Homo sapiens: one gene and its partners. The protein of the gene in region 5 interacts with the protein of the main gene of each other region in a pairwise test. Each region holds a gene or a part of one and is shown on either strand. Other genes may lie near its edges. The genes, in order: POGZ, CRX, KLHDC7B, SMAP1, QRICH1, MYH7B and MEOX1.

Region 1 (3,500 bases), on a different chromosome or scaffold from region 5:
AATCTTTCCAGTAAAGGCAGGGAGAATGTGTTATAGGTGAGCTCACTGACCAAGATCTGGTACTTTGTCTCTCTTTTAAAGCCCCAGGTACCCAGTTTGTTAAGCCGACAGTTGGAGTTCCACAAGTGTTCTCCCAGATGACCCCTGTGAGGCCAGGCTCCACAATGCCTGTGAGGCCCACCACCAACACCTTCACCACCGTCATCCCGGCCACTCTTACCATTCGAAGCACCGTCCCACAGTCCCAGTCCCAGCAGACCAAGTCCACTCCCAGCACTTCTACCACTCCCACTGCCACACAGCCAACCTCACTGGGGCAACTAGCTGTTCAGTCTCCAGGCCAGTCAAACCAGACCACGAATCCCAAGCTAGGTAAGGCTTCGGAAGAGGAGATGGCAGAGCCAGGTTGGGATGGTGGGTGGAGAACAGATGATTATCACTTGGTCACCGTAGCTCCCTCCTTCCCCTCTCCACCTGCAGTGAGCATTGCCAGCTTTGTCACTGTGAAGCGACCTGGTGTTACAGGCGAAAATAGCAATGAAGTGGCCAAATTGGTGAATACCCTTAACACCATCCCTTCCCTGGGCCAGAGTCCTGGGCCAGTGGTGGTGTCCAACAACAGCTCTGCTCATGGCTCTCAAAGAACCAGCGGACCTGAGTCTTCAATGAAAGGTACAATAACCTGAAAGACTCTGAGCAGCCAGTCATTCAAAAACATTAATAAAGTGTTTGTTGTATCAGAGCTTTATACTCAGAAATAGAAAAATAAAATAAAATACAGCTGCTGTAGTTTGTTCTTACAGAAACTTTAGTAAGGAGAAAGCCACTTACAAAAAGTGTAACTGAATCAGCTCCAAGAAATTATGTGTGTAATTGTGCTTTGGAGATTAGTGAAATTGATTGATTAAAGATGGGTGAGATAATGAAAGATAACTTCATGGAAGAGATGGATTTCTGAGCAAGGTTTTAAAGTTAGGATTTGGTAGAGAGATCTTCAGGTTGAGAATGATGAGCATGAGGGTTTTCAGTGGTCTAGAGCAGGGGTCGGCAAATGTTTTCTGTAAAGGGCCTAGTAGTAAAGTTGTAGGCTTTGTGCACAATATATAGCCTCTGTTGCAGCTATTAACTGTGCTGTTGTGGTGGGGAAGCAGCCACAGATACATAAACGAATGAGCATGGCTGTGCTCCACTAAAAACTATTTATGGACTCTGAAATTTAAGTTTCATAAAATTTTCATGTGTCGAAAAGTTTTATTCTTTTATTTCAACCATTTAAAAATAAAAACCGCAAGGTATAGTGGCTCACACCTCATCCCAGCATTATGGGAGGCCAAGACGGGAGGATCACTTGAGCCTAGGAGTTTGAGACCAGCCTGGGCAACATGGTGAGATCCCATCTCTACAAAAAAAAAAAAAAAAAAGATTAGCCAGGCGTGGTGGTGTATGTCTGCAGTCCTCGCTACTCAGAAGTCTGAGGTGAGAGGATGGCTTGGGCTTGAACCCAGAAGGTTGAGCCTGCAGTGAGCCATGAGCATGCCACTGCAACAGAACGACACCCTGTCTCAAAAAAAGTAAAAACCTTTAAAACATGGTGTTGGGAAAACTAGATATCCATGTCCAAAAGAAGTTGGATCTTACCTTACAATAAATACAAAAATTAACTCAAAATGGATCAAAGACCTAAATGAACTAAAACTATAAGACTCTTAGAAAAATTATAGGACAAAAAGCTTCATGATACTGGATTTGACAGTGATTACTATTTCTTGGATATGACACCAAAAGCATACGCAAGAAAAGAAAAAATGAGTAAATTAAATTATATCAAAATTTAAAACTTTTGTGCAGGACGTTGTCAACACAGTGAAAAGGGAAGCCACAGAATGGGAGAAAATATTTGCAAATTATGTATCTAATAAGGGGTTAATATCCAGAATATATAAAGAATTTGTGCAGTTCAACAACAAAAAAACTCCCAAACAACCTTTTTAAAAAATAGACAAAGGACTCGCTGGTCGTGGTGGTTCATGCCTGTAATCCCAGCACTTTGAGAGGCCAAGGCAGGTGGATCACGAGGTCAGGAGTCCAAGACCAGCCTGACCAATAATGGTGAAACCCCGTCTATACTAAAAATACAAAAATTAGCCAGGCGTGGTGGTGTGTGCCTGTATTCCCAGCTGCTCGGGAGGCTGAGACACAAGAATTGCTTGAACCTGGAAGGCAGAGGTTGTGGTGAGTCGAGATTGTGCCACTGCACTCCAGTCTGGGCAACAGAGAAAGACCCCATCTCAAAAAAAAAAAAAAAAGTAGGAAAGTAGGCAAAGGACTGAATAGACCTTTCTCCAAAGAAAGTTATTGCCAATAAGCTCATGAAAAGGTGCTCAGTGTTATTAATCATTATGGAAATGCAAATCAAAACCACAATGAGGTACCGTCTCACTCCCATTAGGATGGCTACTATCAAAGAACCATAAAATAACAAATATTGTTGAGGATGTGGAGAAAGCAGAACCCTTACGCACTGTTGGTGGAAATGTAAAATTATGCAGCCACTTTGGAAACAGTATGGTGGTTCCTCAAAAAGTTAAAAATGATAGAATTGTTGTATGCTCCAGGAATTCCATTCTATACCCAAAAGAATTGAAAGCAGGGACTAGAACAGGTATTTGTACACCTATGTTCATTGCAACATTATTCACAATAGCTGAAAGGTGAAAGCAACACAGAGGTCCATCAACTGATAAAGGGATAAATAAAATGTGGTATTCACATACAATGGTATATTGTTCAGGCTTAAGAAAGGAAATTCTGCTACAACATGTGCTGCAACATGGTTGAACCTTGAGGACATTATGTTAAAGTGAAATAGGCTAGTCACAAAAGGACAAGTACCATATGATTCCACTTACTTGAGGTACCTAGAGTAGTCAAATTCATAGAGACAAAGTTGAATTGTGGTTGCCGGGGTGGAGGCGAGGGGAGAATGGTGAGGAGGTTTTTATTGGATATAGCTTCAGTTCTGCAAGATTAAAAAAAACAAAAACCTTAACAAAAAAATCACATACAAATTATTCTTAGCTTATGGGCCAAACAGAAACTGGTAGCTGGGCTGGATTTGATCTGTGTGCTGTGGTTTGCTGACCCCTGGCCTAGAGTTAGAACAGTAAAAGGAAGCCTCAAACATAGTGATCTTGAGCCCAGGGAGGTCAAGGCTGCAGTGAGCTGTGGTCGTGCCACTGCACTCCAGCCTGGGCAACAGACTGAGAGACCGTGTCTCAAAAAAAACAAAAACAAACAAAAACCATAGTGATCTCTCATGCTTGCTTACCCTTTTATATACTTCTCAGGGAGTGTTTGACTTTTTCCCAAAAGGTCAGTAATCTTTTTCCAGTGTCATTGTATTAATCTTATCAATTCTTCTCACTTCTTTCAGTGACCTCTTCCATCCCAGTATTTGACCTCCAGGATGGTGGACGGAAAATATGTCCACGATGTAATGC
Region 2 (3,500 bases), on a different chromosome or scaffold from region 5:
TGCAATGGCGCGATCTTGGCTCTTTGCAACTTTTGCCTCCCAGGTTCAAGTGATTCTCCTGCCTCAGCCTCCCAAGTAGCTGGGATTACAGGCGCACACCACCATGCCCGGCCAATTTTTGTAAAGCCTTATTTTTAAGAGAAGTGAGTACTCAGTTATTTGTAGCATTATTCTTTAGCTCTTGTTTTTTTTTTTTTTTTTTTCAAGACCGAGCCTTGTTCTGTTACCAGGCTGGAGTGCAGTGGCATAATCTTGGCTCACTGCAACCTCTGCCTTCTGGGTTCAAGCGATTCTCCTCCCTCAGCCTCCCGAGTAGCTGGGACTACAGGCATGCACCACCACACCTGGCTAATTTTTTGTATTTTTAGTAGAGACAGGGGTTCCCCATGTTGGCCAGGATAGTCTCAATTTCTTGACCTTGTGATCTGCCTGCCTCAGCCTCCCAAAGTGCTGGGATTATAGGCGTGAGCCACCGCACCCAGCCCAGACTTGCTACTTTTATAGGCTAGAAACGGTTGAATGTCAGCAATGTCATGCTTCAACTGATTATGTCTTAGTGCATAAGAAAGTTTAGAAGAGGGAAAAACGACTCGCACACCTCCTTGTTGAGCTAAAGCCTTGGGGTCAGGCATGAGCCACAGAGTGCCAGGCACACAGTGAGGTGTAGAAGGGCAGGGAATGTGTATTCCATCCTTAGTTTAGGCAGATGGCAACCAGGATGGAATTCTTGGCATCCCACCCAGCCTCAGGGCCTCACACCAGCCCATGTGGATGACCTGAGGGTCCTGTTTCCCATCCCACCCCAGGCGCCCCCAGGAAGCAGCGGCGGGAGCGCACCACCTTCACCCGGAGCCAACTGGAGGAGCTGGAGGCACTGTTTGCCAAGACCCAGTACCCAGACGTCTATGCCCGTGAGGAGGTGGCTCTGAAGATCAATCTGCCTGAGTCCAGGGTTCAGGTGGGGTGGTGGGTCCCTGGACCCCTCCCGACACTTCCTGTGATCTCAGGAGGCCTGCCCGGAACAAAGAGTGATGGGAGGAGGGAGAGATCACAGAGTGACAGCCAAAGTTATAAAGGGGACAATAATCCCTCTCCCCACCATCCCACTGACCGCCTCATGGCTCTCATTGCCCCTCGCTCCTCTCCAGCTGCGCTGGCCCTGACCTGCCTGCCAAGCACCCTCCTGCCTTGGGCCTTTGCACTCAGTTTCCTCTATCTGGAATGCTTATTTCCAGATAACCACACAGCAGGCCCCATCGCCTTGTTCGAGTCTTTGCTTATCCATCAGTGAGACCCACACTGAACACAGCATTTAAAATTGCATATGATTTACATATGGTATCTCAGAGTCTGTTTATTTAGACTCTGTCTCTCCCAACTAGAATGTCAATTCCACTGACGGACACTCAGAGTAGTAGAAAATGGTTAATACATGTTTATTAACTGACTGAATAGACGGATGGATGGATGGGTGGGTGGATGCATAGATGAATGTATGTATGTGTGACTGTAGGTGTGCGTGTGCATGTATGACTGGAAGCATGGATGAGTGTATGTATGTGTATATATGAGTGTCTGTGTGTATGATGGGATGGATACATGTATATATGTGTGTTTGCATGAACGCACATAGGTATGATTAGATAGATGATGAATGTATGCATGCATGATATATGTATACGTGGTGTATGTGCACATGTATGTATACATGCTTGCATGATTGGATGGATGGGTATATTTATTTATTTGAAATGGAGTCTCGCTCTGTCGCCCAGGCTGGAGTGCAGTGGCATGATCTTGGCTCACTGCAACCTCCGCCTCCTGGGTTCAAGTGATTCTCCTGCCTCAGCCTCCTGTGTAGCTGGGATTACAGGCGTGTGCCACCACACCGGGCTAATTTTTGTATTTTTAGTAGAGATGGGGTTTCACCATGTTGGCCAGGCTGGTCTCAAACTCCTGACCTCAGGCAATCCTACTGCCTCGGCCTTCCAGAGCGCTGGGATTACAGGCGTGAGCCACCGCGCCCGGCCGGATGGGTGTATTTATGTATATATGAGTGTATGCATGTATATATGATTGGACTGATAAATAAAATGTGTGTGTTAGTATGATTGTATATAGGTATGACTGGATGGATTAATGTATATGTATGCATGATGTATGTGTGTATGATGTATGGGTGTATAATTGTATATTTGTATGTTTGTATAATCAGATGGATGGATGAACATGCATATGATGTATGTATGATTAGATAGATCCATTAATGCATGTATGATGTATGTGTGTATGACCTATGTTTATATAATTATATGTATAAGATGGATGAATCTATGTATGATGTATGTGTGTACAATTGTATGTATCATCAGATGGATAAGTCTATGTATGATGTATGTATGATCAGATGGACTGGTGAATGTGTGTATGACATATATATGTGTGAGGTATGTATATATGATCAGATGGATGTCTACATAATGTATGTGTGTATGGTGTATGTATGTATAATTGTATGCGTGTATGTTTGTATGCTGTAGGTATGATGTTACATATATGTGCATACACACGTGTGTATGATTGGAAGGATAAATGAAATATGTATGTTTGTGTGATTGTATGCACATATGATTAGATAGATTAGTGTGTAGCTATGTATGCTGTATGTGTGTACAATGTATGTGCCTATAATTGTATGTTTGTATGTCTGTATGATCAGATGGATGAATATGTATATGATGTATGTATGATCAGATAGCTGGATAAATGTATGCATGATGCATGTGTGTATGGTGTATGCATGTATAATTGTATGTATGTTTGCATTAGATGGATAAATGCCTGTAGGTATCATGTATGTACGCATACATGCATGATTGGATGACTGGATGGGTTTATTTGTGTATATATGAGTGTACGCATGTATATATAATTAGATGGATAAATGAAATGTGTGTCTGCATGATTGTATGTATGGATTAATGTGTATATATGTATGATGTATGTGTGTACAATGTATGTATGTATAATTGTATGTTTGTATGATCAGATGGATGGATGAATGTGTATGATGTATATATGTATGATCAGATGGCTCCATTAATGCATGTATGATGTATGCGTGTATGATGCATGTACACTTGCATGTATGATCAGATGAGCCAGTGAATGTATGTATGATGTATATGTGTATGATGTATGTATGTATGATCAGATAGATGGGTAAACGTATGCATGATGTATGTGCGTATGGTGTATGTATGTATAATTGTATGTGTGCATGTTTGTATTAGATGGGTGGATGAATATGTGTATGATGTATGTATGATCATATAGATGGGTAAATGCAGGCATGATGTATGTGTGTATGGTGTATGTATGTATAATTGTATGTGTGCATGTTTGTATTAGATGGATGGATGAAAATGTGTATGATGTACGTATGATCATATAGATGGGTAAATGTATGCATGATATATGTGCGTATGGTGTATATATGT
Region 3 (4,025 bases), on a different chromosome or scaffold from region 5:
GGCACGGTCTAGAAAGCCTTCCCTCAACTTGAGGTCCACCTTAAGGCATGGGGCCCACCCTCACCCTCTCCCTGTCATCTAATAGTCCCAGGGGGAGCTGGGAGGTGAGTTACCTGAGGCTCAGTAGGGTTCAGGCTGGGTGCCAGGGACACTCCTAGGCCATCTCCTTGCTGCTTGAGTAAGGGAGAAATCCCCAGGCCTGCTGTGTCCCAGAGGAAGGAAAAATACACACGGTACTTTCCAGGGAGCCCTGCCTTTGTCCCAGGGACTCCAGGCTCTTTTTCTTGTCTGAGCCTCACCTGGCACCTGGCCCGAGACACTCCTGAGATGGGATTAAGCAAGGAGCAGGTGGAGGAGCCCAGGCTTCTCCCTCAGGAAGCAAGTGCTCACATCCAACAGAAGTACCTACATGCCGGCCTGAGCCAGGGCTAGGAGGTACCAGCCAGGATGTGGTCTCGAGGGCGAGTCCTCAGCTCAGATAAGGGAAGGCTGAGGACTGAGATGAAGACACCCAGAGTCTGGCTATTAGAGCACCTGGGGCCAGAGGGGGGTGGTTTCTAAGGGATCCAGGTGCTGGCTGATGCGGTAACTGGAGTAGGGGGCAGGCTGGGCTCAGGGTTCTCCAGGGGCACAGTGAGAGTCTCATCTGGGCAGTCAAGACACTCTCGATGGGCGCAGGGGGTCCAGGAGATCCTAGAAGGTCTAGGTGGGCTGAAATAAGCCTGGCCATAAAGAGAGAAATATGTTTGGATTTTATTTATCCCATTAATTTTTTTTTTCTCTTGACTTGATAACCCTATCCCATGTCTGGTAAACCCAGAGTAAGGAGTCCAAAAGCTGCTGGAGGAGGAGCTATGGGAGCCTCAGTCTCCTCTCTATGCCCCCTCCCTGTGCCCCAGTACAAACCTCCACAGCACCCCTGCAATGATAATGCTCACTGCCAGGACCCGTGTCCAGGGTCTCCCTCTTCAGCCTGAGAGACCACCGTCAGGCACAGCCTGCACCCTCCCGTGCACGGCCCCCACCCCTCCCCTGCTGGCCCACAGTGGAATCAGCCTCTCCGGTTTCTGGTGATTTCATCAGGGCCACATCACATTGCTAGAGCTAGAGATAACATCTCCCTGTGGGTAACCCTTCCCTGCCAAGCCCCCTGAAGCTGGGCCCAGGCTGAGAGGAGGGACTGTGGGGTGTGGAATAAATTTAGGGGTGTGAGGGTCTACCAGGCAGAAGCAGGTTGGCTGTGATGACAGCACAGAGCTCAGGAACGCTGCCTGAGGACCCTGGGGCCTACGAGGAGGAGAAGAGGGCAGGAGCTGGTGGGGTGCTTGCAGAGACCCTGGGCTCCTATCCTGCCATAAGCCTCGCTGTCTCCTGATATCTGCAGCCAGGCCCTACTGACACCCCCAGGCCTGAGTGCAAGCAGAGACCCCACCATTCCCAGGCCCTGGAGGACTGGTCCACCTTAACTGGGCAGCCCTTGGGGCAGGCGCTGGCCGGTGCCTCAGCCCAGGCCTCTGTGCTCTGCATGCACTGCCAGCCTGCCATCAGGCCTCTATTGCAGCCCTGAACCATGATCCAGGGCACCTTGGAGCCAGATGGTCCCCTCTGGGGCTGGGACTGGGACAGTGACAATGACTGGGATAGTGCTGTGCTGGCCCTCCTGGCGCTGGCTGTGGTGGCTGCCACAGCGCTGGCCTTACACTGGTTTGGCTCCGGGCACGATCAAGAGGCGGCAGAACCGGTGTCCACAGCCCTCGGGGCTCAACCTCATCAGGCAGGAGGAGCTGAGCTGGCCCTGCAACCGAAGTCTAAGGTCAGTGATGGCAGCGAGGGGCAGAGCCCAGGGCAGGGGAAACCAGAGCCCCCAGGACGCGGCCAGCAGAGCCCTGTCCCTGCTGCAGCGCCGGGCGGGGGCCTGGCCGCCATGGCCCGGCTTCCACTCAAGACGGCTGTCGAGGAGGCCCGCAGAGAGGCATTAGGACAGCAACGGGGCAGTGCCACCCCCGCGGCCCCCCGAGCGGAAGGAAAGGAGCCTCCCAGGCCAGGCACTGCCCTCCTGGGCAGGAGCGAAGCAGGGGGGATGTCCGCCCCCCTCCTGATCCACTTCACTCCTCGGAGCCCTGGCAGCGAAGCGGAGGCGGAGACAGGTGGTGTCAGGGCGTCCTCTCGCCAGGCCGCAGGCCCCGCGGGGCAACAGGACACTGGCCCCTGGCAGGCGGGCGCGGGGCCCTCGGGCTCGATGGGGAGAGGCCGGGGCCGGCGGCGGCGGATGGACGCTGGCTCGGGAGACAGAGCCCGCCGCCCCCGGAAACTGGACCCGCTCCGCCTGGGCGCCGCGGGGAGCGTGTGGGACGCGGTGGACGGGGCCGCCGCCCTGGACGCCCACGCGCGCGGCCTCCCCACAGGACCCCCACTCGCCCAGGAGCCCGCACTCCCGGCGCTGCCCGCTCCCCGCGCCCTGCAGCCTGGGTCTCAGACGGAAGGCTCTGGGGCCAAGGGTGGCTGGAGCAGGGAGGCCTCGGGGGTCCCTGCCCCCGGAGGAGGCTGGCCCTGGGTCAGCAGGGAGGTCCCGGGCACCCGGAGCTTTGGCCCAGCCCCAGACTCCACGCGCCCCTGGCTAGAGAGTCCGCCTCAAGGTCGCCCACTCTCGTCCCAAGGGCCGGGTGCCACAGGGGCCTACGATGCCGGCGAGGCCGGGGCTGACAGCTCCCGAGATAACAGTCCTGCCGCTGACCTGGGGCCCACCCGGCCCCCGGAGCAAGCAAAGCCGGCTGCAGCCGGCCACAGCCGCGCGCCCTCCCGGAGCCGTGAGCCTCGCCCGCGCTCCGCCTCCCCGCCCGCAGCTCCCGGCCCGGGGTTCCCACCTGAAGCCCTGACTCTCCCCTCTCCTTCAGACTTTTTGCCCCTGGAGGTTACCCAGGATCCTTCCGTGGGCGAAAATCTCAGAGCGGCGCCAGCCCCAAGTTCAGCCTCAGCCCAAGTCTTAACTTCAGCTCCAGCCTCAGTCCTAGCCCCAGCCCTGGCTTCATCCCCCAGCTCAGCACCAACCTCAGCCACCACCTCAACCTCATCCCCCACCTCAGCCCCAGCCCCAGCTCCAACCTCAGCTCCAACTTCAACCCCAGCCCCAGCCCCAAGTCCAGCTGCAGCCGCAACTCCAGCCCCAGCCCCAGTCCCAGTCCCAACCCTCACACCCCCATCCCCAGCCCTAACCCCAGTCCCAACCCCAGCCCTAAGCCCAGCTCCAACTCCAGCCCTAACCCCAGCCGCATCCCCAGCCCTAACCCCAGTCCCAACCCCAGCCCTAAGCCCAGCTCCAACTCCAGCCCCAACCCCAGCCGCATCCCCTGCCCCAGCCCCCACCTCAGCCCCAACCCCAACCCCAGCCGCATCCCCTGCCCCAGCTGACGGGTCAAAGCCTCAGGAGAGTGTGGCTCTCCCCAGGCGCTACCAGGAGGGGCAGGTCTCAGCCAGCTGGGGAAACCTTATTGCCATGGTTCTTAGAAGCCACCCCTTCCCCAGGCAAGACAGGCCCCAAGGGAGTGTCCCGAGGGCGGTTCCCGGGAGCCCCGTGGGTCCCAGCACTTCCACACACTCTGAGGACAGACACGGCCCCTCTTCTTCAGTGGGGACAGTCATAGGGACAGGTACAGGGGGCCTGGTTGAGGCTGGAGGTCAGCCACAGCCAAGAAGCTCCGAGACCAACGGATCGCCCAGCCCAGACCCTCCCCCAGGCCTAAGAGGAGAGGGAACCAGGGAGAAAAGTCTAGACCCGCTGCCCCAAGCCGCGATGCCCAGGGGCCCCGCACAGCCCCCCGCGCAGAGGCCGCCTGGCCCCGCGGCCTCCTCCTCTGCGAGGCGCTCACAGCCGGTACCCCAGCTACGGAAACGCAGCAGGTGCGAAATCGCCCCGAGCTCGGAGCAGGAGGTCAGGCCGGCCGCCTCGGGGGACCCTCAAGGGGAGGCGCCGGGGGAGGGGGGCAGCCCTGCCGGCCGCAGCGGGGCGCTCACGGAAAAGCAGGAGG
Region 4 (3,500 bases), on a different chromosome or scaffold from region 5:
GTGTGTGTGTGTGTGTGTGTGTGTGTGTGTGTAGAAATTTAAATTAGCATTTAAATAAAAAGCTTAGCAGTCATCAGGTACTGCAATGTTATATTTTTTGGCTATATATTACAGTATAGCTGAAACTCTTCAAGATGGGGGGGGCACTGTTCATTTTACCAAGAATGTACCTTGTTCTTTACCCTGTCCAGACTTTACCTGCTGTGTAACTTGAGGTCTTTTTTTGTTTTTTGTTTTTTTTTAAAGACAGCGTCTCCCTCTGTCACCCAGGCTGGAGTGAATTGGCAGGGTCTCGGCTCACTGCAACCTCTGCCTTCCAGGGTTCAAGCGATTCTCACACCTCAGCCTCCTGAGTAGCTGGGACTACAGGCACGTACCAACACGCCCAGCTAATTTTTGTGTTTTTAGTAGAGATGGAGTTTGGCCATGTTGGCCAGGCTGGTCTTGAATTCCTGGCCTTAAGTTATCTGCCCACCTAAGTCTCCCAAAGTGCTGGGATTACAGGCGTGAGCCACTGCGCCCAACCCACATAATAATCACATCAAATGCCACTGTCTCTACAAAGCCTCCATTAATATTGTTGGCTGACATTAATTTTTACCTCTTCTATGTTCCTGTGTCATTTGTACTTATTACTATAACCATTATATGATTATTAGAGTTCAAGCTCCTTGAAGGCAGGATTTGTGTTTTGTCATCTTCGTTTAATACTTCGGTCAAAATAAACACATAATAGATAACTGGTGATTTAAATTGGATCTAGAAAACTCAGGTTTGATGAAAAAGTCTTTTATTATTCTTTAACCCGTCTTAGAATTTGGGCTCTAAAATCAGGGATTGCTAAATCTATTGTGTGTTCTGTTTGCTGTTACCAACATTCAAATGTAATTCACACTGACCGTGTGCAGTGTGGCTCATACCTGTAATCCCAGCAGTTTGAGAGGCTGAGGCAAGTGGAATGCTTGAGCCCAGAAGTTTGAGACCAGCCTGGACACCATGGTGAAACCCTGTCTCTACAAAAAATACAAAAATTAGCTGGGCGTGGTGGTATGTGCCTGTAGTTCTAGCTACTTGTGAGGCTGAGGTGGGAGGATCACTTGAGCCTGGGAGGCAGAGATTTCAGTGAGCCAAGATCTTCACCACTGCACTCCAGCCTGGGCAATAGAGTGAGACCCTGTCTCAAAGAAAAAAAAAAGTGGCTTAAACAGGGTAGAAGTTTATTTCTCCTTCACATTGGTCTGGACATGAACTGTCCAGTATGGGTAGAGTAGTTCTGTCATCTTCACCATGGGGCTTTTGTAATTGGATCCAAGGTTGCAGGTTCATTCCTTATTGTCTCCTAGCAAATGGAAAAGGGGAAGAGGCCAGGGGAACACAGGCCCAGTGTGGTTAATGGCAAAATATATCATTTCTGTTTACATTCTACAGGAGAGGCTGAGAAATGTAGTCTTCCTATCAGGACAGCCACATTTCTAGGTAAAATTCAGAAGCCTTTATTACTTAAAGGAAGAATGGGAAAATTGATATTAAAGATAGTGATTTTTGCCATAATTTTCAGATTTATTTCCATTTTTAAAAATAGTAGATCAGTTGTTCAGGAATCAAAACATTTGAGTATTTGACTGAGTCATCAGATCTAGCAGATTTTTAAAATTATACAGTCGATTCCCTTACTGTAGGTGATACAGAAGGTTATATAAGAGCCTTCCTAGTGAGAACTTTACCATCTACTTTAGGAGACAGAACTAATTACAAATGAAAAAAGAGTAGATGCCTATTGTGGCACATTCTGTGTCACATGCTGTTATGAGTGTAGACATTTACAGGAGATAAATATTTCCTATAATCTAATATAGAGGAAAACAGGAAACTGTTAAAGGTTTGGAGTTGGAAACTGAAATGGTGCGAGAGTGTAAACTGGTAATGGAATTCAGATTGGGTGAATTATCTTTCTCCCTCTTCTTCTGATAATGAATTCAGAGTGGATGAGCTCCCTCCCTTTTGCTCTGCCTAATCTCTGAGGTTACCTAATACTTTTCAGCCTCAGTTACCACATCCAGATGTTCTTTCTTAGCCCAATTACTCTTGACTTCTTTGGAATATTTGATACTATTGAACATCTTTTTTTTTTCCCTGTTTTTGAAAACAGCTTTTCTTTGAAACGACCTCATTCTCTACTTTTACTGCCTTTCATTTTCTCCCTAAGATTTAGTACTGTGCTTTTTTGCTCTTTTTGTTCTTGATACTGCAACTCTCATCTTAAAAGAAGGTGTGAGGCTGGGCGTGATGGCTCATGCCTGTAATCCCAGCACTTTGGGAGGCCGAGGCGGGCGGATCACGAGGTCAGGAGATCAAGACCATCCTGGCTAACATGGTGAAACCCCGTCTCTACTAAAAATACAAAAAATTAGCTGGGCGAAGTGGCGGGCGCCTGTAGTCCCAGCTACTCAGGAGGCTGAGGCAGGAGAATGGCATGAACCTGGGAGGTGGAGCTTGCAGTGAGCCGAGATCACGCCACTGCACTCCAGCCTGGGCAACAGAGCGAGACTCCGTCTCAAAAAAAAAAAAAAAGAAGGTTGTGTGTGTGTGTGTGTGTGTGTGTGTGTGTGTGTATGTGTGTATGTATCCAGTTTGAACTTTAGTCCTATATTCTAAATCGCCTGCCAGACATTTTCATCTTGGTGTATCACTATCATTTAAAGCATTCAATGGATCTCCTGCAGTTTTCTGACTCCACGAGGACCCTCATGCTTTATATCCTAGGTGCAGAACTTGCATTTTGGCCTCTACCTTCTCCTTTGCCACTGTATTTTCTATGAGTAAGCCCTGTCAGTTCTTCCTGGTGATTTCATATTTGTTCGTTTCCATTCTTACTGCTGCCACATTTATCAGTCCCTTAATTACGTTAGTTATGTGAAAGCAAATCAGGAAGTGTGTTGAATGCTTGAGTTAAAGATTGTGGAGAATGCTCTAGAACCTTGCTCTTCAAAATGTCATCTGTGGATGGCAGCATGGGCATCACTGGGAACTTGTTAGAATGCAGAACCTTAGGAGCTACTCTGGGGGTCACAGAATTAAGAGTCTTCATTTTCATGATATTTCCAGTTGATGTGCATGCACATTAGGGTTTGAGAGACACTGATCTAGAATTCACTGTGCATTTCTGCTTCCCTTCTCTCTCCCTTCTCCCCCTGACCCTCCTTTTTTTTCTGACTAGAGTGCGGTGGTACCACCATAGCTCAAAGGACCTTTGAACTCCTGGGCTCAAGCTATCCTTCTGCCTCAGCCTCCCAAGTAGTTAGACCTGCAGGCACTCACCACTACGTGTGGTGTGTAGTTTTCAATTTTTATTAGAGACCACTGTGGTTTCACTATGTTACCCAGGCTGGTCTCAAAACTCCTGGCCTCAAGTTATCCTCTCACCTTGGCTTCCCAAGTGCAGGGATTATAGGTGTGAGCCACTGTTTCTGGCCCACTGCATATCTGTTTAACCTTTCTTA
Region 5 (3,500 bases):
CACAGGCAGAAAAGTGCAGCATCAATTCACATTGAAGTCTGTGATCTCAAAACCTGAGCCTTTTTTTTTTTTGAGACGGAGTCTCGTTCTGTCACCCAGGCTGGAGTGCAGTGGCGCGATCTTGGCTCACTGCAAACTCCGCCTCCCAGGTTCACGCCATTCTCCTGTCTCAGCCTCCCGAGTAGCTGGGACTACAGGCACCCGTCACCACGCCTGGCTAATTATTTTAATAGAAATGGGGTTTCACCATGTTAGCCAGGATGGTCTTGATCTCCTGACCTCATGATCCGCCTGCCTCGGCCTCCCAAAGTGCTGGGATTACAGGTGTGAGCCACAGCGCCCGGCCTTTTTTTAAAAAATATACTTAGTAACAGCTTTATTGAGATATAAGTTACCCATTTGAAATGTATAATTCAGGCACACTGGCTCACACATGTAATCCCAGCACTTTGGGAGGCCAAGGCAGGTGGATCACTTGAGGTTAAGAGTTTGAGACCAGCCTGGCTAACATGGTGAAACCCTGTCTGTGCTAAAAATGCAAAATTTAGCTGGGCATGGTGATGCGTGCCTGTAATCCTAGCTACTCAGGAGGCTGAGGCAGGAGAATTGTTTGAACCAGGGAGGCGGAGGTTGCAGTAAGCTGAGATTCCACCACTGGGCAACAGGGCAAGACTTTACCTCCCAAAAAAAAAAAAAAAAGCGACTACACCAATTTTTTCTTGTTTTTTTTTTTTTCTGAGATGGAGTCTCACTCTGTCCTTGACTGGGCTGGGTATAGTGGCGCCATCTCGGCTCACTAGCTTCCACCTCCCAGGTTCAGGCAATTTTGCTGCGTCAGCCTTCCGAGTAGCTGGGATTACAAGCATGTGTAACCACGCCCAGCTAATTTTTGTATTTTTAGTAGAGACAGGGTTTCACCATGTTGGCCAGGCTGGTCTGGAACTCCTGACCTTGTGTCCACTGGCCTCAGCCTCCCAAAGTGCTGGGATTACAGGTGTGAGCCACCGCATCTGGCCAACTACACCAATTTAACATGCCCACCAGCAGTTTCAAGTTGTCTATATCCTTACCTATACTTGTTATCTGTCTTTTTTAGATATAACTTATTAGATATAAAGTGGTTTCTCATTGTGGCTTTGATTGGAATTTCCTTCACAGCTAGTATGATATGGAGCAACTTTTTATGTGGTTCTTGGCCATTTGCATATATTCTTTTTTTTGGGAGATAGTTTCACTCTTGTTGCCCATGCTGTGGTGCAGTGGTGCAATCTCGGCTCACTGCAACCCCCACCTCCTGGGTTTAGTAGTTCACCTGCCTCAACCTCCCAAGTAGCTGGGATTACAGGCATGCACCACCATGCCTGGCTAGTTTTGTATTTTTAGTAGAGACGGGGTTTCACCATGTCGGTCAGGCTGGTCTCAAACTCCTGACCTCAGGTGATCCACCCACCTTGGCCTCCCACAGAGCTGGGATTACAGGCATGAGCAACTGTGCCTGGCCTCATTTTCTGCCTTCTTGTTTTCTACCTTTCTAATTCCTACTTGTGGTTAGGGTAATTTATCTATGTGTCTGATGGTAAAAGCTGTTTTTTAAAAGTTGCATACTATGTATTTTTTTCTTTTCATGCTCTTTTGCATGCTGACATAATAATAAGACAGTAACTGTATTGTTATCAGAAACATGTCATCCAGGTTATGGTAATATTGCTCAGATTAAATTATTGGGATTCTGTTTATTTAAATGCCTTTCCCATTAAACATATGTTAAGTAAGCACTCTAAAGCAGTGGTCCCCAACGTTTTTTGCACCAGGGACTCGTTTTGTGGAAGACAGTTTTCCACAGACATTGATGGGGGTGGTGCTTTGGGATGAAACTGTTTCACCTCACATCATTAGGTGTTAGATTTTTTTTTTTTTTTTTTTTTTTTTTTTTTTTTAAGATGGAGGCTCACTCTGTCACCCAGGCTGTGATGCAGTGGTGCTCTCTCTGCTCACTTCAACTTCCGCCTCCTGGGTTCAAGCTATTCTGCCTCAGCCTCTCAGGTAATTGGGATTACAGGCATGCACCACCATGCCTGGATAATTTTTTATATTTTTAGTAGAAGTAGAGGTGGGGTTTCACCATGTTGGCCAGGCTGGTCTTGAACTCCTGGCCTCAAGTGATCTGCCCTCCTCAGCCTCCCAAAGTACTGGGATTACAGGTGTGAGCCAATGCACCTGGCCAGGCATTAGATTCTAATAAGGAGCATGCAGCCTAGATACCTCACATTTGCAGTTCACGATAGGGTTTGTGCTCCTACAAGAGTCTAATGCCACCATTGATCTGACAGGAGGTGGAGCTCAGGTGGTAATGCTCACCTCTGTGCTGTGTCGTTCGCCTACGGACCAGTACTAGTCCTTGGCCCCAGGGTTGGGGACTTCTGCCCAAAAAATCAGGCTGGGGGCTGGGTATGGTGGCTCACGCCTATAATCCCAGCACTTTGGGAGGCCAAGGCTGGTGGATCACCTGAGGTCAGGAGTTTTGGACCAGCCTGGCCAACATGGTGAAACCCCGTCTCTACTAAAAATACAAAAATTAGGGCTGGGTGTGGTGGCTCACACCTGTAATCCCAGCACTTTGGGAGGCCAAGGCAGGCAGATCACGAGGTCAGGAGATCAAGACCATCCTGGCTAACACGGTGAAACCCTGTCTCTAATAACAATACAAAAAATTAGCCAGTCGTGGTGGCGGGTGCCTGTGGTCCCAGCTACTTGGGAGGCTGAGGCAGGAGAATGGCATGAACCTGGGAGGCGGAGCTTGCAGTGAGCTGAGATCACACCACTGCACTCCAGCCTGGGCGACAGAGCGAGACTTGGTCTCAAAAACATATATATGTATATATAAATTAGGTCTGGGCGTGGTGGCTCACGCCTGTAATCCCAGCACTTTGGGAGGCCGAGGTGGGCGGATCATGAGGTCAGGAGATCAAGACCATCCTGGCTAACACGGTGAAACCCTGTCTCTACTAAAAATAAAAAAATCAGCCGGGCGTGGTGGCACGCACCTGTAGTCCCAGCTACTCGGGAGGCTGACACAGGAGAATCGCTTGAACCGGGGAAGTGGAGGTTGTAGTGAGCCGAGATCGCACCACTGCACTCTAGCCTGGGCGATAGAGCGAGACTCCGTCTCAAAAAAAAAAAAAAAAAGTTAGCTGGATGTGATGGCAGGCACATGTAATCCCAGCTACTTGGGAGGCTAAGGCAGGAGAATAGCTTGAATCCGGGATGCAGAGGTTACGGTGAGCCGTGACTACCATATCACTCCAGCCTGGGGAACGAGCGAAACTCCATCTCAGAAAATAAATAAATAAGGCTAGGCATGGTGGCTCAAGCCTGTAATCCCAGCACTTTGGGAGGCCAAGGTGAGCGGATCACAAGGTCAAGAGATCGAGACCATCCTGGCCAACCAACATGGTGAAACCTCGTCTCTACTAAAAATACAGAAATTAGCTGGGGGTGGT
Region 6 (3,500 bases), on a different chromosome or scaffold from region 5:
GTTTTCCAAAGTGGCAGCAATTGTATCAGAGCTCCAATTTTTACATCCTCACCAATACAGTTATCCCTCTGTATCTGTGGGGAATTGGTTCCAGGACCTCCCATGGATACCAACATCCAAGGATACTTAAGTCCCTTATATAAAATGATGCAGTGTTTCATATATGCTTAAGTCCCTTATATAAAATGGTGTAGTGTTTCATATAAACTATATGCATCCTCTCATATGCTCTTTAATTTTGTTTTATTTTATTTTAAATTTAAATTTATTTTTATTTATTTTGAGACAAGGTCTCACTCTGTCAGGCTGGAGAGCAGTGGTGCGATCATAGCTCACTGCAGCCTTGAACTCCTCGGTTCAAGGGATCCTCCTGTCTCAGCTTCCCAAGTAGCTGAGACTACAAGCGAGAGCCACCACACTGTCCTTTCCATGTACTTTAAGTCATCTCGGCCGGGTGCAGTGGCTCACGCCTGTCATCCCAGAACCTCAGGAGACCAAGGCTGGCAGATCACCTGAGGTCAGGAGTTCGAGACCAGCCTGGCCAACATGGCGAAAACCCATCTCTACTAAAAATACAAAAATTAGCTGGGCGTGGTGGCGCACACCTGTAGTCCCAGCTATTCAGGGAGGCTGAGGCAGAGAATCGCTTGAACCCCAGAGGCAGAGGTTACAGTGAGCTGAGATCGCGACACTGCACTCCAGCCTGGGTGACAGAGCGAGACTCCGTCTCAAAAAAAGAAGTCATAAATGCTATATAAATTGTTATACTGTATTGTTTAGGGAATAATGACAAGGAAAAAAGTCTGTACATGCTCAGTACAGTTGAAACATTGTTTTCAAATATTTTCAAGCTGCAGTTGGTTGAATACACAGATGTGGAACCCATGGATATGGAGGTCCCACTGTACTTGTCTGATTGTGGCCATCCTGGTTGGTCATTGTGGTTTTGATTTGCATTTTCCTAATGACAAATAATGCGCATATCTTTTCATGTGCTTATTGGTAGTTTGTATATCTTCTTTGGAGAAGGGTCTATTTAAATGTTTTCCTTATTTGTAAGTTATTTGTCCTTTTATTATTGGGTTGTAGGAATTCTTTATATATTCAGGATAGTAGATCCTTCCTTATATGTGATTTGCCAATAATTTGTCCCATTCTGTGGATGGTCTTTTCTGTTTTTCGATAGTATCTTTTGAAGCACATATTTTAAAATTTTGACGAAGTCCAATTTATTTATTTTTTCCTTTGCTTGTGCTTTGAATGTCATATCTACGAAACCATTGCCTAATTCGAAGGTCACAAAGATTTACACTTACTTTTTCTAAGAGTTTTATAGTTTTGGCTCTTAAATTTAAGTCTTTGATTCATTTTGAGTTAATTTTTATATAGGATGTGAGGTAGGTCTTATGCATTTTTACCCTCCTATTAGGTGTATTTCTAAGCAATATATGACACTTTTTCATGGTATTTGCACTTTTAAGTGGTAAATTATATGATTCTTGTGCAGCTTGCTTTTCTCTTTCAGTGTTATATCAGGAGATTTATCCATGTTTTAAGGGGAAATAGTTCATTCATTTTCACTGCTCTATAGGTTTCATTGCATAAAAATACCAAAGTGGCAGCAATTGTATGAGAGTTTTGTTTATTCTCCTGTGAATGGTCACTTGGGTTCTCTAGTATTTTATTACTATATATGGTAAAAAGACTAATAGATGCCTCCTGTGCAGTGTGTTGAAGGTCGTGAGCATATTCAGACTTACAAGGTAATACAAAGTTTCTTTCCCAAATGGTTTTGCAAATGTGCACTCCTGCCAGCAGTGTATTAGAATTGCCCTCATTCTGCATCCTCACCGAGACAGAATGGTCAAGGTTTCTAGCTTTTGTCAGTCTAGTGATGTGAAACGGTGTCTCGTTGTGATTTTCCAGATTAATAGCAAGATTTGTTTTTCAGTAAGTGTTTACATGGTTGGATGGATGAATGCATGAAAGCAGAAGGGGCCCAGAATAACCCTTTACTCTGCCTGTTGTTGGAGGATGGCAGGGCTCTGGGCCTAGACTATGTGGCTCTCTGTAGGGACACCGTGGAGCTAGAGAATGTTGGGGGCAGGCTGACAACTCTAGATGTGGGAGAGGACGGTTGTCACCTTGAAACTAGTGATGGGAGCTTCTCTCTACCCAGGGAGAGGCTATCGTCCTGCTCTTCCATCTCCTTGAATTTTCCAAGAAGGGAGGGAGTGGAGAAAGAGTGAAGCCAAAAGAGAATTCCTGGGACTGGGCGCGGTGGCTCACGCCTGTAATCCCAGTACTTTGGGAGGCCAAGACAGGAGGATCACTTGAGACCAGGAGATAGAGACCAGCCTGGGCAACATAGTGAGATCCCACCTCTACAAAAAATTTTTGTAAAATTAAAAAACAAGGGAATTGCCTAAGGATGAGAGGTCACAGTGGCCTAAGTGACCCTTAGGAATGACCCTTTTTCTGGGACTTTTTCATGATCTTTATATTGGTGTGACATGAACTTTCCTTGTTTAATCTACTGAGTTTGGAGATGGTCTTAATGATAATAAGAAAATGAATAGTAATGATTATATGTTGAACTCTTATGTGCCAGGCACTTACGCCTTTTCTTTTTAAAAATAGGTATTATCTCATTCAATTCCTATGGGACAGGTACTATTAGTATTCCCATTTTATTTTATTTTTAAAATAGGGATGAGTCTCACTGTGTTGTCTAGGCTAGTCTCAAACTCCTGGCCTCAAGTGACCCTCTTGCCTTGGCCTCCCAAAGTACTGGGATTACAGGCATGAGCCACCGCACCTGGCTCATTCCTGTTTTATAGATGAGGAATCAGAAGATCAAAGAGACAGAGCAACTCTGAGGGTTTGCACATAGGCAGTTGGACTCCAGAACTCTTAGGCATCATGCTGTGTGGTTAACCTGGCTCAGCCGAATCCACTAGAGCAAAGAAAAGAGAGGCTTGCCCAGGCTTGGGTGAGAAACAGGAGTCAGAATATTCACTGGGCCTGGCCTGAGGGCGCAGCAGGGAGCAGAGCGAGAGGCCGCTGGGAAAGATGGTTCTCAAAAGCAGAAGCCTCACGCCAGGGGACATGGCCCATCAGCAAGCACATGGGTGCCTCTTCTGGGCATGCTGGCTGCTGGGGACCCAGAATGGGATCTGTCTGCTCCTGGGTCTCAAGAAAGACCTGTCTTGTGGGGTAGACAGATGATAATAAGCAGACTTACCCATAAGTGTAATACACTCAGAAATGGGGACATGTGATACAGAGGGTGAAGAGAGAACCTTTATAGAAAGGACCTAGTTTAGTTAATGTAGTCAAAGGAAGCCCCTTTGAGGAGGTGACATTTGAGTGGAGGCTCGAGAAGAAGGAAGCAGCCATGCCCCAGTTTGGGGAAAGAGTAAATGGCAGATGCAGAGTCCCTGAGACAGAAAGGAGCTGGTTTAGTTGTAAACTCTCAGAAGGCCACTGTATCTGGAGTG
Region 7 (3,500 bases), on a different chromosome or scaffold from region 5:
AAGGGTCCCCTCAGGAGCACCAGCAGCAGATGAGGCAGGGCCCAGTGAGCTGACTCTCACTCATCCCCCTGTGATTCCAGACAAACTCACTGTTCAGCATGGAAATCTTTATTGCCGCAATGCTTGCATCCTCCTTTGGAATTTAACTGAAGGGGAGGAAGGAGGCAAGAAAGATCAGCTTTGTAAGAGCCCAAAGAAGGGGGAAAGTGACGCAAGGCTCATGACCTACTCCAGGAATCTGGAATTCAGCTCAGAAAAGGCAAACCCACAGAGAGCCCCCCACCCAACCCTGCCAATCCTGAGTCTATAATTGGATCCCCTCTCCAAAATTGTGATATTTTGTTCATTATCAATTTTTTGCATTACTTTTGATTTTTACAAATATTGCCTTAAAATATTCTTTTTTTTTTTTTTTTGAGATGGAGTCTCACTCTAACGCCCATGCTGGAGTGCAGTGGCATAGTTTCAATTCACTGCAACCTCTGCCCCTTGGGTTCAAGCAATTCTCCTGTCTCAGCCTCCTGAGTAGCTGGGATTATAGGCGCACGCCCCCTCTCCCGGCTAATTTTTGTATTTTTAGTAGAGTCGGGGTTTTACCATGTTGGTCAGGATGGTCTCAAACTCCTGACCTCGTGATCAGCCCACCTCGGCCTCCCAAAGTGCTGGCATGCGCCACCGTGCCCGGCCTTCCTTAAAATATTATTGATCTTGACTACAGAGGGGTTGGGCATGCCCTTGCATTTGGGCCTCCCCAAGTCCAGGCTGAGTGGTCCCTGGAAGGTTAACCAGCATTGATCAGAAACGCGTTTTCCATAGTTCTTCCCAGCCAGACAGACAGGCTGCAGTGTCAGCACGGCAACTTTTGGCTGCATGACTTTGGAAAAGTTCATAACTTCTTCCAGCCTTTGTTTCCCTGGCTGTAAAATGGGCATATAGCAGTAGCCCCTTCCATAGAGAGTCTCTCTGTGAAGGTTAGATGCAGTGATCCATGAGATTAACTCTGTGCCTGGCACATAGTAAGAGTTCAATAAATAGCAGCTGTAAATGGTATTAGGCCCATATTTCCTGAACCAGCCTTCAGAATATAAGGTCTGACAAATATTTCTATATTTATGGGGATGGTGGAATTGAATATTTCAATTATGCTGTCTCAGAAATTCCTGAGTCTAGAGAACTTCTGGCAATCATTTTGTTCCAGTTGTCATCAGGAGCATGGAGCTCAGAGACCTGCCGGAGAGGTTATGGGGTGAGTTGGGCCTGGCAAATGCACCCCATATTGAGTGGCTGAGAAGCCTCCAGAAATGGAAAGTTTATTGTAAGAGGAATGTTCTCTGCGCTTCCTTCCTCCTTTGCCATCTCCTTCAACTGCTCCCCGCTCACTCCCAGTAGAATCTGGAGCTGATCTACTCAAAGAAATTATCAAGAAAGCAAGGGTTGGCCGGGCGCGGTGGCTCATGCCTATAATCCCAGCACTTTGGGAGGCTGAGCCAGGCGGATCACCTGAGGCCAGGAGTTCAAGACTGACCTGGCCAACATGGTGAAACCCTATCTCTACTAAAAATACAAAAAAAAAAAAAAAAAATTAGCCAGGTGTGGTGGCAGGCACCTGTAAATCCCAGCTACTTGGGAAGCTGAGGCAGGAGAATAGCTTGAACTTGGGAGGTGGAGATTGCAGTGAGCAGAGATCACGCCACTGCACTTCATTCAGCCTGGGTGACAGAGCGGGACTACATCAAAAAAAAAAAAAAAAAAGAAAGAAAGAAAGAAAGAGAGAGAGAAAGGAAGAAAGGAAGGAAGGAAGGAGACAGAGAGAAAAAGAGAGAAAGAAAAAGAAAGAAAGAAAAGAAAGAAAGAAGGAAGGAAGGAAAGAAAGAAAGAAAGAAAGAAAGAAAGAAAGAAAGAAAGAAAGAGAAAGAAAGAAAGAAAAAGAAAGAAAGAAAATGAACAAACGGGGAGAAAGAAAGAAAGCAGGGTTCCTGGCCTTTGGCACTTCCCCACCCTGGAGACCAGCATGGTGTTATCTTACCCAAACCACTCCCAGCCCCAGGCCAATGGGGATTAAAGACCCCTGCTGGCAGGGACAGCTGTGAGGCCACTGTTGTTTTCCCCCAAACTGTCCTTGCTACTGTGGTTGTCTTTAATTTATGGGAATGAAGGATTTTGCGGTGGTTTCCTCATGGGGTTCAAGGGAAGGTTGCGTGTGATTAGAGTGGCTACAGGTGAATCCGATCGCCCGCCTGGGAAAGCCATGGTGCTAGAACTCAGCACTGCTCCCTCCTGCTCTCACGTCCTCACTCTGCTGAGACATGCCTTTAATCAGACGTGATTTGTCTCATCCTTCTTCAGCTCCAACACGTGTGTTCCCAGAGCTGTCCTGCCCCAATTTCTCTTTGCAAGACCTGCTCTATGCCTGCCTCCGCCCAACCACAAATTTGCCTAAGGTATAAAACTCCACAAATAGGCCTCTCTCCTCTTTTCCCTCCTGATGCCCCTTTACAGGCCACCTCCCCGCCCCAGGTCCCCTCCACTACCCCTGCCACGAAGCCACACCCAGGGACTGACCTTGCAAACACATCCTGCATTTTCTTCCCCCTCTCTGACTGTGCTCTGGTGGTTTCTCCTTGCCTAGAGCACTCTCCCCTTCCCCGTACTTCTGCCTGTTGAAGTCCTACTTAAAAACCACCCAGCTCAAAAACAACCCCTTCCAAGAATATTTTTGTTCTTCTTTTTCAAAAATTTATAGCTACATTTGCATATAACATAGTATCAAAGAAAGCTACAGTTAAGAAATGTCGAAGTCTAGTATCTGCTAGAATCTGTGTTGATTTTCTCACTTTAGCTTGCAGTTGTTTCATAAAGGAACTCTTCTGAGGTTTCTTACCTGGGACATCTTATATTTGAAATCTCCTTTTTTAAAAATTGGGGTCAAATACACATAACATAAAAGTTACCGTCTTAACAGTTTTTAAGTGATACAGTACAGTAGTTGTGCAATCGATTTCTAGAACTTTTAATCTTGCAAAACCGAAACTCTATCTCCATTAAACAACGACCTTTTTTCCCTTCCCCCACCCCCTAGCAATCACCATTCTTTCTCTTGCTAAACATTTGACTATTTTAGATACCTTACATAAGTGAAATCATGCAATGTTTGTCATTTTTGTGACTGGCTTATGTCACTTGGCATAATGTCCTCAAGTTTCAACCAGGTTGTAGCAAGTGACAGGATTTTCTTCTTTTTTTTTTTTTTTTTTTTTTTTTTAGAAAGACAGGGTCTTGCTATGCTGCCGAGGCAGGTGTTGAACTCAGGGCTTCTAGCAGTCCTCCCACCTTGGCCTCCCAAAGTGCTGGAATTATAGGTGTGAGCCACCATGCCTGGCCTCCTTCTTTCTGAAGACAATAACATTCCATTGTATGGATATACCAAATTTCTTTCTTCTTTTTTTTTTTTTTGAGACGGAGTCTCACTCTGTTGCCAGGCTGGAGTGCAGTGGCGCGAT

What was found.
Region 1: the proteins of QRICH1 (region 5) and POGZ interact in binary tests that used the Homo sapiens proteins (3 or more experiments, as listed by UniProt).
Region 2: the proteins of QRICH1 (region 5) and CRX interact in binary tests that used the Homo sapiens proteins (3 or more experiments, as listed by UniProt).
Region 3: the proteins of QRICH1 (region 5) and KLHDC7B interact in binary tests that used the Homo sapiens proteins (3 or more experiments, as listed by UniProt).
Region 4: the proteins of QRICH1 (region 5) and SMAP1 interact in binary tests that used the Homo sapiens proteins (3 or more experiments, as listed by UniProt).
Region 6: the proteins of QRICH1 (region 5) and MYH7B interact in binary tests that used the Homo sapiens proteins (3 or more experiments, as listed by UniProt).
Region 7: the proteins of QRICH1 (region 5) and MEOX1 interact in binary tests that used the Homo sapiens proteins (3 or more experiments, as listed by UniProt).

Annotation. Positions count from the first base shown.
Region 1 is NC_000001.11:151,424,995-151,428,494, reverse strand, and holds part of POGZ (pogo transposable element with ZNF domain), read left to right. Parts: intron 1-81; coding exon 82-372; intron 373-453; coding exon 454-672; intron 673-3,433; coding exon 3,434-3,500. UniProt on the Homo sapiens protein: Plays a role in mitotic cell cycle progression and is involved in kinetochore assembly and mitotic sister chromatid cohesion.
Region 2 is NC_000019.10:47,835,437-47,838,936, forward strand, and holds part of CRX (cone-rod homeobox protein), read left to right. Parts: intron 1-806; coding exon 807-958; intron 959-3,500. UniProt on the Homo sapiens protein: Transcription factor that binds and transactivates the sequence 5'-TAATC[CA]-3' which is found upstream of several photoreceptor-specific genes, including the opsin genes.
Region 3 is NC_000022.11:50,544,674-50,548,698, forward strand, and holds the start of KLHDC7B (kelch domain-containing protein 7B), read left to right. Parts: upstream 1-1,225; 5' UTR 1,226-1,570; coding exon 1,571-4,025.
Region 4 is NC_000006.12:70,726,883-70,730,382, forward strand, and holds part of SMAP1 (stromal membrane-associated protein 1), read left to right. Parts: intron 1-3,500. UniProt on the Homo sapiens protein: GTPase activating protein that acts on ARF6. Plays a role in clathrin-dependent endocytosis. May play a role in erythropoiesis.
Region 5 is NC_000003.12:49,059,572-49,063,071, reverse strand, and holds part of QRICH1 (transcriptional regulator QRICH1), read left to right. Parts: intron 1-3,500. UniProt on the Homo sapiens protein: Transcriptional regulator that acts as a mediator of the integrated stress response (ISR) through transcriptional control of protein homeostasis under conditions of ER stress.
Region 6 is NC_000020.11:34,962,368-34,965,867, forward strand, and holds part of MYH7B (myosin-7B), read left to right. Parts: intron 1-3,500.
Region 7 is NC_000017.11:43,655,423-43,658,922, reverse strand, and holds part of MEOX1 (homeobox protein MOX-1), read left to right. Parts: intron 1-3,500. UniProt on the Homo sapiens protein: Mesodermal transcription factor that plays a key role in somitogenesis and is specifically required for sclerotome development. Required for maintenance of the sclerotome polarity and formation of the cranio-cervical joints.